Homo sapiens: one gene and its partners. The protein of the gene in region 1 purifies or fractionates together with the protein of each later gene. This does not show direct contact. Each region holds a gene or a part of one and is shown on either strand. Other genes may lie near its edges.

Evidence for each region. The genes of interacting proteins can lie anywhere in the genome.
Region 2: the proteins of REG1A (region 1) and COP1 purify together in Homo sapiens (affinity purification with western blotting, with the first as the bait; one study listed by BioGRID). This does not show direct contact.
Region 3: the proteins of REG1A (region 1) and NAA20 purify together in Homo sapiens (affinity purification with mass spectrometry; one large-scale study listed by BioGRID and IntAct). This does not show direct contact.

Annotation. Positions count from the first base shown.
Region 1 is NC_000002.12:79,119,360-79,123,287, forward strand, and holds the start of REG1A (lithostathine-1-alpha precursor), read left to right. Parts: upstream 1-1,128; 5' UTR 1,129-1,155; intron 1,156-1,456; 5' UTR 1,457-1,502; coding exon 1,503-1,566; intron 1,567-2,202; coding exon 2,203-2,321; intron 2,322-2,628; coding exon 2,629-2,766; intron 2,767-3,481; coding exon 3,482-3,593; intron 3,594-3,788; coding exon 3,789-3,856; 3' UTR 3,857-3,928. UniProt on the Homo sapiens protein: Might act as an inhibitor of spontaneous calcium carbonate precipitation. May be associated with neuronal sprouting in brain, and with brain and pancreas regeneration.
Region 2 is NC_000001.11:176,043,287-176,046,786, reverse strand, and holds part of COP1 (E3 ubiquitin-protein ligase COP1), read left to right. Parts: intron 1-462; coding exon 463-606; intron 607-2,968; coding exon 2,969-3,077; intron 3,078-3,500. UniProt on the Homo sapiens protein: E3 ubiquitin-protein ligase that mediates ubiquitination and subsequent proteasomal degradation of target proteins.
Region 3 is NC_000020.11:20,020,362-20,023,861, forward strand, and holds part of NAA20 (N-alpha-acetyltransferase 20), read left to right. Parts: intron 1-2,094; coding exon 2,095-2,119; intron 2,120-3,500. UniProt on the Homo sapiens protein: Catalytic subunit of the NatB complex which catalyzes acetylation of the N-terminal methionine residues of peptides beginning with Met-Asp, Met-Glu, Met-Asn and Met-Gln. Proteins with cell cycle functions are overrepresented in the pool of NatB substrates.

The sequences.
Region 1 (3,928 bases):
CCACACCAGGCCCATCATCAGTTTTTATATAAAGAAAAAAAAACCTTAAAATTGTTAGGCAAATACTATGACAAATTGTAATATATATTCTTACATTTCAGATTTTTATTTTTTAAACTGTATAAGAATTGATTAATAAATAAAATTTAGTATTAATCTGTCTTTTAAAACCATATATAAAGTTTATCAAATAGCTTATAACTTCTTGCAACTGAATTTTTGTATTCAATGTTATGGCTTTGATACTAGTCCAAGTTGAAATATAGATATCTACTTTATTCGATTTAAATTCTGTTTAGTATTTTATTATATTTTGTTAATCCATTTGTCCCAATTCATATACTTATCTCTCTTTCTGTGAATATTCAGGTTAGTTTTTTCTTCCTAATTTTGCATTCTGATTGGCTTTTATTCCCTGAATTATAAATGACTATTCTATGATGATTCTGGTAAATACTCAATTTCACCACACAATCTTTGACTTCATACTAACAAACAGTTGACTTCAAATGGACAATTTCAATGAAGCCTGACTTCATATTTAGCTCCTTTAAGCTTCCTTAGGCATCAGCTCTCTACAATTCTCACATTGAGAATATGTGTATTTTGTTAGCTCAAACCTTGTTAGACATGTTAAATGTTTAGAAATATAAATTTAACCTACCCCTTGAGGTAGGTCTTGAGAGGTTTGTGAGCCTAAAAAGACATGGAGGAACCACTTATTGCCACAAGCACATTGTTCTAAATTATTTGGAATCAGTTAATTCTTCCCCATCTCCTACCCATGCCTGACACCAAAGAGGAGCCTCTAAATTTACAGGGAATACAAGGAAGTCTACTGTTCTCTGCTCCTCTCTGGGTTATTAGGGCACATGGGAGCCCTCAGTTGTTTTCTGCTGAGCAAGAGCAAAGTCCACCTTGGACTTAGACAGCTTGCCAAATTTTTTGCCAGAAGGGGACCTGAGTTGTGACCACTCCCAGTGTGTGCCGGGAAAAGGCTCGTACTGGTGCCAGAATCTCTTACTGTCAATGCTCCCAAAACTCACCGCTTGCCCCCACCCCTTTTGCTTAAATGACGTGGTTCTTATCTCAGATCCTGATATAAAGCTCCTACAGCTACCTGGCCTGAGAAGCCAACTCAGACTCAGCCAACAGGTAAGTGGGCATTACAGGAGAAGGGCGTCTCTAACATGCACTGTAGATCTAAAATCTTCGGGAAGATACAGCATGAGTTTCTGTCCAAGAGGTTTTAGCTGTAATGAAGCCTCAGTGGGATCCAAAGTTGTTTTTCAGTTACTGAGTCTGTATAATCCCCACTCTCAAGAGAAACATTTGAAGGTGTGGGTGTCTCAGAGGACCTTCCTGGTCTCAGAAATTCTGAGAGGAGGTTTTAAGGAAGGTAATAGGTGCTTTGCTCTCCATCTCTCAGAACCCCCTTCTCTGTGTTCTCCTATAGAGATTGTTGATTTGCCTCTTAAGCAAGAGATTCATTGCAGCTCAGCATGGCTCAGACCAGCTCATACTTCATGCTGATCTCCTGCCTGATGTTTCTGTCTCAGAGCCAAGGTAAGATCTCTTTTCCACCAACCAACTCTTTCTAGCCCTGAAGACTTCACTCTATCCCCAAGCATACGGGTCTACTTGAAAAAAAAAAAAAAAGCAGAGTCACTGTTAAGGGTTGTTTTGTGGTGTTTAGTGATCTTTATTGCTGATCTCTTCACATTTATATACATCCACACCTCATTAAGGAGTTGGAGCTAGAATTTAAAATGACCCCTTATAAGCAACTGCTGCAGTTGGCATGAGTTTATCTGATTAAATTTATACGTGATGGTGGATTTGGGGATGTCTGTGTGTAGACAGTCACTAATGGGGTGGAGAACTGAAGAGAGCCTTGTGTTCAGGGAAACCAAGTCAGGCTTGAGAAAGTAGAAGGCTGAGTCCTTCAAGGTAGAAGAGCCTGAGCTCCAGACATAAAAGGGAAACTGGAGACTTGTTTCTTTGGCCTATTCATTCTGTTTTTTTTCCCCTGATCAAAGAAACCAAAGACAGAAGATGTAGGATGCAGGAGCAATAGTGAGCAGTCATCCCATAATAGACTGGATTCTTCTGTTTCTATAAAGGAACCTCAGAAGCTCTTACCTCACCTTCAAGCCTTTTCCTTACCCTGAGAGCCTCCTTTAATTGTCTCTTCTTTTTCAGGCCAAGAGGCCCAGACAGAGTTGCCCCAGGCCCGGATCAGCTGCCCAGAAGGCACCAATGCCTATCGCTCCTACTGCTACTACTTTAATGAAGACCGTGAGACCTGGGTTGATGCAGATGTGAGTGAGGAGAGCAGTGTGGGAAGGGAGACTCATGAAGGGAGGGGAAGCTGCCACTCTCCAGTGTGTTCAGTGGCTGCAATGAGATGAGACTGAACCCCTTGCTATACTATCATCAGCCCCAAACTTTCCAATCTACTTTATCCCATTATTCAGCACATTCCCAGCACAAAGAACCTGGTGGTCAGTGACAGCATCATCACGGACATTACTCTGCTGTCCTTTTTCTGACCCGTCCTCTTGGAGGACTCAGTATATCCGTCACAACTTCCTCCTCCACTGAGTGCTCCATTTTCTTCTGCAACAGCTCTATTGCCAGAACATGAATTCGGGCAACCTGGTGTCTGTGCTCACCCAGGCCGAGGGTGCCTTTGTGGCCTCACTGATTAAGGAGAGTGGCACTGATGACTTCAATGTCTGGATTGGCCTCCATGACCCCAAAAAGGTAGGCTGCAGCCTTCTTTATCTCCTAATGATCAGGTTTGAGAAGTAAGAAGGAGGTTCAAGTTCTGGTCTCTTAAGTACCAGCTTTTATCGCTTTCCAGAAATCAGGCTGTTTACAGATCCTCTAATGTCCTGTGTAGCAAGGTGCACTGTAGATGATTGGAGATATAAGTGGAAGGCTGAATTTCCTAGGTGTTCTTGTCATTCATGAATAAACTTATTCTGTTTTCAGTCAACAAAGCATCTTTATGCACCAACTTCTTACCTATTTTGTTACTGTCAGAGTCACAAGAGAGACTAGATTGCCGACTATATAGGAAAGGAGACTTGTGGTAAAAATCTGCTGCTGTACTGCTGGCATTTGGGAACCTGGTAGTATACTAAATAATATAATATATCAACAACTAATGGTCAGCCAATGCTATGCTGGATATGAGGGTCCTGGGCCACAAAGACAAAAAATCAGGAACCACTTTTTAAGTGAGATACTTTGGGTCTCTGTCAAATTCATAACACTTATTTCTTGGTGGAATACAGTTAATGAGTTGGACAGTTCAGGAAAGAAGTTTAGAGCAATAGCAAAGGAAAGGAAACAATATTTAGCAAGGTTTATTCTTCCTTTGTGTCTTAGCATGTTTCTGAGTGTGCACACAGGCCCAGTGATTCCATGTATTTTTGAGTGACCACTGCCTCTGTTCTGGCCCTTCCCCATCTAGAACCGCCGCTGGCACTGGAGCAGTGGGTCCCTGGTCTCCTACAAGTCCTGGGGCATTGGAGCCCCAAGCAGTGTTAATCCTGGCTACTGTGTGAGCCTGACCTCAAGCACAGGTGAGAGGCAGAGAATCCATCCACCTGTTTCTGTTCTCTCCTGCTTAGCTCCAGGGATGGAACTGGGACTGGGATAGAGGAAAGGTGAACTCCTCATTAAGGAAATGGATGTTTGGTTTTTGTCCTGAGTCCTAAAGCCAGGAGGGTCATACTCTTTCGGGTCTCCCAGTTGTAACTCTTCTCATTGACTTATAGGATTCCAGAAATGGAAGGATGTGCCTTGTGAAGACAAGTTCTCCTTTGTCTGCAAGTTCAAAAACTAGAGGCAACTGGAAAATACATGTCTAGAACTGATCCAGCAATTACAACGGAGTCAAAAATTAAACCGGACCATC
Region 2 (3,500 bases), on another chromosome or scaffold:
CAAATTATATACTAATTTATTTATTAAAAATAAAATTTAATATTGTGAAATTCTACTACCTCCACAAAATGGCAGGGAAATAAGTAGAATGTATGGAAAAATTAGTTGATAATTGTCTTTTGGCATACTTTTAGTATATCAAATGATTCACGCCATTAAATCTTTCTCAGTAAGCTGTAATATGGTTATTAGAACTGAATGAAAAGCATGTCAGGTGTCTTGGAACAAAAGTACACCTGTGCACAATTGTGTAGATATACAAATGTATATATTAAAAGTTTTATATTACACAAATCTCAACAACTTTTAATTTGATATGTGTTGATTACTTAATCTGGATATGAGGTCTAGTACAATTTGAAGGTATTTAAAGTAGATCTTTTATCCTTGTAGACCGAATTACTTTAGAAATAGAAAATAGCAAATTCTGAAATGTTGTCATTACATACTTTTTCCCCTTAGTATTGAATTTGACCGGGATTGTGACTATTTTGCGATTGCTGGAGTTACAAAGAAGATTAAAGTCTATGAATATGACACTGTCATCCAGGATGCAGTGGATATTCATTACCCTGAGAATGAAATGACCTGCAATTCGAAAATCAGGTATTTACATTATTTTCTTGACATGATGCAGTATAGATGTAACAATTTGCATATGTAATTATCATGAGATTATTTTACCTTTGCATGACACTTTTTACTCATGGTGAACACTATTATTGTACTATGTATACAGAGTATATATTATTACTTATATCATCTTTCTTACAGATATTGGTTGCTTTTTTCTTGTGAGGTTAGCCTTTTTTTTTTTTCTGGTTGCCAAATTAAAGTTCTTCTTTCACTTAATCAAATAAAGGTCTTTGTTGGACATGGTTGTTGGAGACTCTATGGAGTACTGAATGAGGATTAATGTAGCTTATGAATAGTATTTGAACATCAGGAATTTTTCCCCTAGCCTGCACATATCTCAACATATTAGAATTGTTTCTAGTTTTAAGAATTTTTTTTACAAGAATATTCTGCTTTTCACTGAAGGAATGGTGTTTATGTTTTCTGTATTAGAGATTATACTTTATAAGCAGTGCTTTTCAAACCTAAAATACTCTTAAACACTAACAGTATGTTAAGACTCTACTCCTGATCTGCTCCCCAAAAAATCTCAGAAGAATTCTAGAATCTGCTTTTTTTTTTTTTTTTTTCCTTCTAAACAAGCTTCCCAAGCTGTTCTCATGAGCACTGGCTTTAAAAGAGAATTATATGAGGAAATCATCTAATAATAACTTTGTATAGAACTTTGAACATTTTCAAAATAGCCATCCTTGAACCTTTTTTATCTTTAATGAATGGCATACATAGTATGTTTGTTACAGTCTTTGTATAATTTATTTGTTATAACTTTCTTTTTTCTAGTTCATTTATAAAAATACTATATCGATAATTGGTGAGCTTCCCCATTCATTTGTGGCACTCATCATTGAGAATCTGTTATAGTTTATGTCCTAAGTGAAGAGGATATAACATGAATTAGATACAAGTTTATTGAATTCTTATATATCAGGCATTATCCTAAGTGCTTGGTCTTTAGCAGACCTATGAAATAGTTACCATTATTGCTCCATTTTATACAAAGAAAGCTGAGCACAGGAAGGTAAATAACCTGCCTAAGATTATACACCTGCTATATAGAGGAGCCAGGATTCAGACTGAAGTAGTTTGGTTCTAGAGTCTGTGCCCTTAAACATTTCCTGCTCCTTATTTATAAAATGGAGGTCACAATAGTAATACTTATTTAATAGGATTGTACTTTTAAAAAATCCCCATAATGCACTCAGAACAACACTTGGCCCATGGCAAGTACTCATAATATATTACATAATGAAAACGTGGATTAGAAAGTTTAAATGTGCTGTCTACCTGTTCTGTATTTGTATGTGTAAAAATGTGCAATACTTCCTGATATATTGGAATAAATGGTGAAAGCGCTCAAGGCTGAAAGCTGTGGGCCTGGGGCTGAAAGGATCAATACCTAAGGATGCCTAAAATAGATTCGGAGCACATCTACTGTGAAAGTGTACTAAATTAGCCAGAGCCACAGCTAATAAGTAACAGATCTGGAATTTGAACTCAAGTCTACCTAAATTCAAAATGTGTCTCTTAATTGTTCCAGATAATTTCTACCAGAAATTCTAATTAAGTATATTTAAAAATGCAAATAAACTCTTCCAGTCTCTGGAATTTAGCATCAATGCAACTAGTAGAAAGCAAAAGACCTTGTGTTCATGTCTTAGAAGTTACCTACATTAACTGCCTTCTAAGTAACTTCTTCCATAATATGCATTCCCTTTACTATATGCGTGATGCAGATATGTATCTCAGCAGAAGTTTTTAGATGTTGTAGACTTCTGGAGTACTTGAGAATAGCCAAAACCATAAATGATAAAAGTTTGATTCTAACTTTTAGATGCTTTTAATTGGAATTTTAGTCATAAGTTATAATTAGTCAAGTCAAGACTTTTGGGATGTAAATACAGAAACCCAATTCACTGTAGTTTATTTGGCTTATATGATTTGGCACAACTGGATCCAGGGGGTTAAACAGTCTCATCAGGTCTGTCATTCTGCCATGGTATGCCTTGAGCCCTCTGGATAGTATCACCTTCACTGATAGACATCGTTTCCTCATGTATCAAAGATGGCCAGTGATAGCTCTAGGCTCACATCCATCTTAACAGCTAGTGATCACAGTAAAAGGTGGTTAGGGTCATTACTTGTTAATTTTTATTTTTAAAATTTCAAAATTATTGGTATGTCTTTTCCCAGGTATGTTGTGGGCAGAATAATGATTGTGAACTGATAGAGACCATTTTAAAATAGTGCAAATCTTTCTGAACACATTAAAATTATTTTTATCCCATTGTTATTTATTTTTATGTAAAGTAACTTTTAACTGTATTTCTTTCAGCTGTATCAGTTGGAGTAGTTACCATAAGAACCTGTTAGCTAGCAGTGATTATGAAGGCACTGTTATTTTATGGGATGGATTCACAGGACAGAGGTCAAAGGTCTATCAGGTAAATAAGGGTACTAGTTACATGTTATATGAATCATACATTTGGTTTGTTAAAACTTTTAGAACTTCATGTGCCTTATAATTACAGATTTGAAGTCACTATTTAGTATTTTTTATACCTGTGTAACACCTATGCAATACCAAATGCTTTTTTTTCCTGTCTCCCACTTTTGGTACCATATGCTTTTCCAAAGCATTTCTTCAGACTTCGGTCTTTATGGAATGTATCAGGTAAATTTCTAAAAGCAATAATTTTGGTAAATGTATAAAAAGTTTTGGAAGTACTTTATATCAACATCTTATTTGCTTTTCATTTGTTTTCTAGCCTGTTGTCTTTCCCTCTCCCCGTAACAATAAATTGATATCAGGTTTTTTTTTTTCTTGCTTTATTCATTTTGAGATCTGTATTCTATCTGAGGCTACT
Region 3 (3,500 bases), on another chromosome or scaffold:
TGGGGAAGTTAGGAATGAGTTACATGAACACTGGGGGCCAGGGGAGCTTCCAGATAGAGGGAACAGTAAGTGAAGACACCCCTGTTTCAAATAGGAGGCAGGCCGCATGGCTGGTACAGAGTGAGCATGGGAGGGTAAGGGGATAACAGCAGAGAGTTAGAAGGGCAGGGCCTGGAGAGGCCATCATAAGACCTGAACTTCTCTGCCAAGTGCACCAAGAAACCCAGGTGGAGGGGCCAGGAAGGCATCTGGGCATGGGCGTCTCAAGATTAGGTCTGAGCTAAAGATGGAAATTTGGGGGTCAGCACAAGTGTAGAAAAAAAGGCTAAGAGTTTGTAAGATGGCGCCTTAGGGCATCAAGTGTTCAAGTAAAGGAGACCGTGTGGCTCAGTGAGGTGAGAGGAGAACCCCATGGTCTCAGAAGCTGAGTGAAGACAGCATTTCAGGCTGTCCCAGGAGTGGGAAGCTGTTCAAGAGGAGCTGATGGCTCAGTGCACATCATATTTGTACATTTCTTCCAGGAAAGAGAAATTGAAGATGCAGATGCAGGAGGGAAAGAGAATTGCAGGAGGAGGGTCCCGAGTACTGAGGGGGTCTCTCGCCCGCACTCCGTGCCTATTGACAGGAGAGCAAGTAGCATATGGGTGCAGATGCCTGTGTGCGTGGGTTCGGTGGGCGGGGGGGGGGGGGGACTTTGGCAAAGACTTCTTCCTGTTTTCTCTTCTTAGTGATGAAATAGGAAGCCCCTGAGATGGCGGGGCTGGAGGTGAGGGTGCGGGTGGGCAGACAAGAGGAGATAAAGCAGTTCAGTCGTCGAAAGGTGTGGTGGAGTGACTCCCTGCACTGTATTAGAGCAGTGATTCTCAAGGAGTGGGCCAGGGTTTGGGGTCCCCAAGATTGTTTCAGGTGTTGTGTGAGGTTAGAGCTATCTTCATGATGTATTAAGAAGGTTTTTCATCTTTTCCACTGTCATTCCCTCACAAGTAGACAGTGGAGCTTCCCAAGGTGTGATCTTTCAGCAGCAAGCATAACAAATGCTTGAGAATCCCGTTGTCTTTTAAGCAGGACGTTGCAGAATTGTTAAAACAATGCCATTGTTGTCACTGGATTTTGTTTTGTTTTGTTTTCGGAAGTATAGTGATTTTTTTGGTAAAGGTATTTGTGTTAACGTGTAATTGATTTATTATTTTTGAGTGAATATTTAAAATTTTTAAATCTCAGTAGATATTACGCGTATAAACAAAAGTTCTTTGGAGTCTTCAGTAACTTTTTAGCGTAAAGGAGTTCTGAAACCAAACAGTTTAAGAACTGCTGGACTACAGAAATATGATATGACTAGCATTGTTATGGGTCTCAAAGGAGAATTTGACTAGAAATCAGAAGAGAACAGTTGAAAAGTAGCTGGTTTTGAACCTGACAAAATAGTGGCTCCATTAATTGACTAGGGAAGTGAGGGGATGGAGATGGGTTTTCAGAATGCAGATTTGGGAATGGTGTGCTGGGATGTGCTGGTGAGCTGCCCACAGCATCGGAGCCAGGTTGGGAGGCATCCACTAAGAACACGTGATTGAACACATAGGAATGGGGATGGTGGGGACAGGGAGGTGGGAGTGTAGAATAGGAGTGGGGAGCAAAAACCGAGTGGTGGGAGTGACCACATTTAGAGGGTGGAATAAAGGAGCAATTGTCAGGGAAGACCCAGACACAGGCGGGGAGGATCCATGGGGTTGGATGCTGCAGCGGGCGAGTTTGACCTTCTGTCTCTGCGAGATACATCCCTAGTTGGTCTCCAGTTCCATTAGCAATTTATTGCCACTTAGAAAACACAAGATGTAGATTTATTAACTTGAATTTTAAAGAAGCAAGTAGCAGTTAAGTGAAAAAATATGTAAACACCTTAATAGTGGCTGTGACAGCTTATTATGGCTATTAGGTAGATTAAATCATCTGCCTCAGCCCTAAAGTTGGCCTTAAAGTTGTTGATGAAACATGTTTTGTTTTCCTTGTGGCATATTACTGTTAGCTTTAGCAGGCTTATTTCAACTGGTTATTGTAAACGCTGCTTACTAGAGACATTTCTCTTGTTTCTTTCAGTAACTTGGATCCACTTACAGAAACTGTATCCTTTTTTACAAAAAAAAAAAAGTTGAATGAAGATTTACTGAGAATAAAGAAAACAGAAATGAAAGGAAAACAGAGGAGTACTGAAAAGTTTAAAAACTTGTAGGTCAGGAAACATCATAAGCAACACTGAAAGCAATTTTAAAAAGTGAAACTGAGAACAAGAGTTGTCTTAGATCTGCTGACAAACTGTTAATATCATGACTTGGTAGAAATCTGTAACATCATAGCTCCCCTGCCAACCTTGCCCCTCAGGAGTCAGCATGGCTGTATTCACCAGAAAGCACAGTGACTTCAGCAAGGTGGCTGCATAGTCTCCAGTGTGAACAAAGTCTGGAGATAAGCAGTCCCAGGCAGGTGATGCTTCCATGAAGACACCAACAGCCAGGCTCTTTGCAGTTTAAGCACTCTACCCCTCCCAGGGTGGCCGTAACCTTGTTCCAGATGTTGCCACAGCAAACAGCATCACAGCCATGTTTCCGGCAGCAGAAACAGCAGAGGGGGAGGTGAGGGTGTTCTTCCCTTTTAAGAGTACCTTTGGGCCTGTACTCCCAGCACTTTGGGGGGCCAAGGCAGGCAGATCACGAGGTCAGGCGTTCAAGACCAGCCTGGCCAACATGGTGAAACCCCGTCCGTCTCTAGTAAAAATACAAGAACTAGCCAGCCGTGGTGGCTCACTCCGTAATCCCAGCTACTTAGGAGGCTGAGGCAGGAGAATCGCTTGAACCAGGACCCGGGAGGCAGAGGTTGCAGTGAGCCGAGGTTGCAGTGAGCCGAGATCGCGCCACTGCACTCCAGCCTGGGCTACATGTAGAGCGAGACTCCGTCTCAAAAAAAAAAAAAAAAGGAGAGTACCTTTGGGAAATGCCACACAGGCCCGCTCTGTCTCATTGACCAGCACCTGTTTCATGCTTCACCTGTCTACTGAATCCTATCTAGAGTCCAGAAATGTGCCCTGCTTTATAAATTGGGACTTGTTACTAAAGTGAAGGCTTTGAGGTAACAATGAACAGTGTCTATTATTGTCCTAATGGAAAAATGGGGCAAAGATGTGAAGATAGGATACTGTGGTTATGCTGCTGTAACAGATAACCCCACATCTCTAGTGGCTTACAACACAAAGTTCGGATTCTGTGTTATGCTCTGTATCTACTGTAGGTGGGTAGGAGGGTTCTGCTAACCGGTAATTTATCAAAAGAGGGCATATAGGAGCTTAATGAACGTGTTAAGAGTTCAGTCTCATCAGTCAAAAGACATGTAAACTAAAACCAAAATGAGATGCCATATTTTATGTATCAGCCAAGATTTTAAAAAATGATAAACCTCAGTGCTGATGATGGTGAGGTGAGAGGAACATTCTCATAAATTGCTAGTGACAA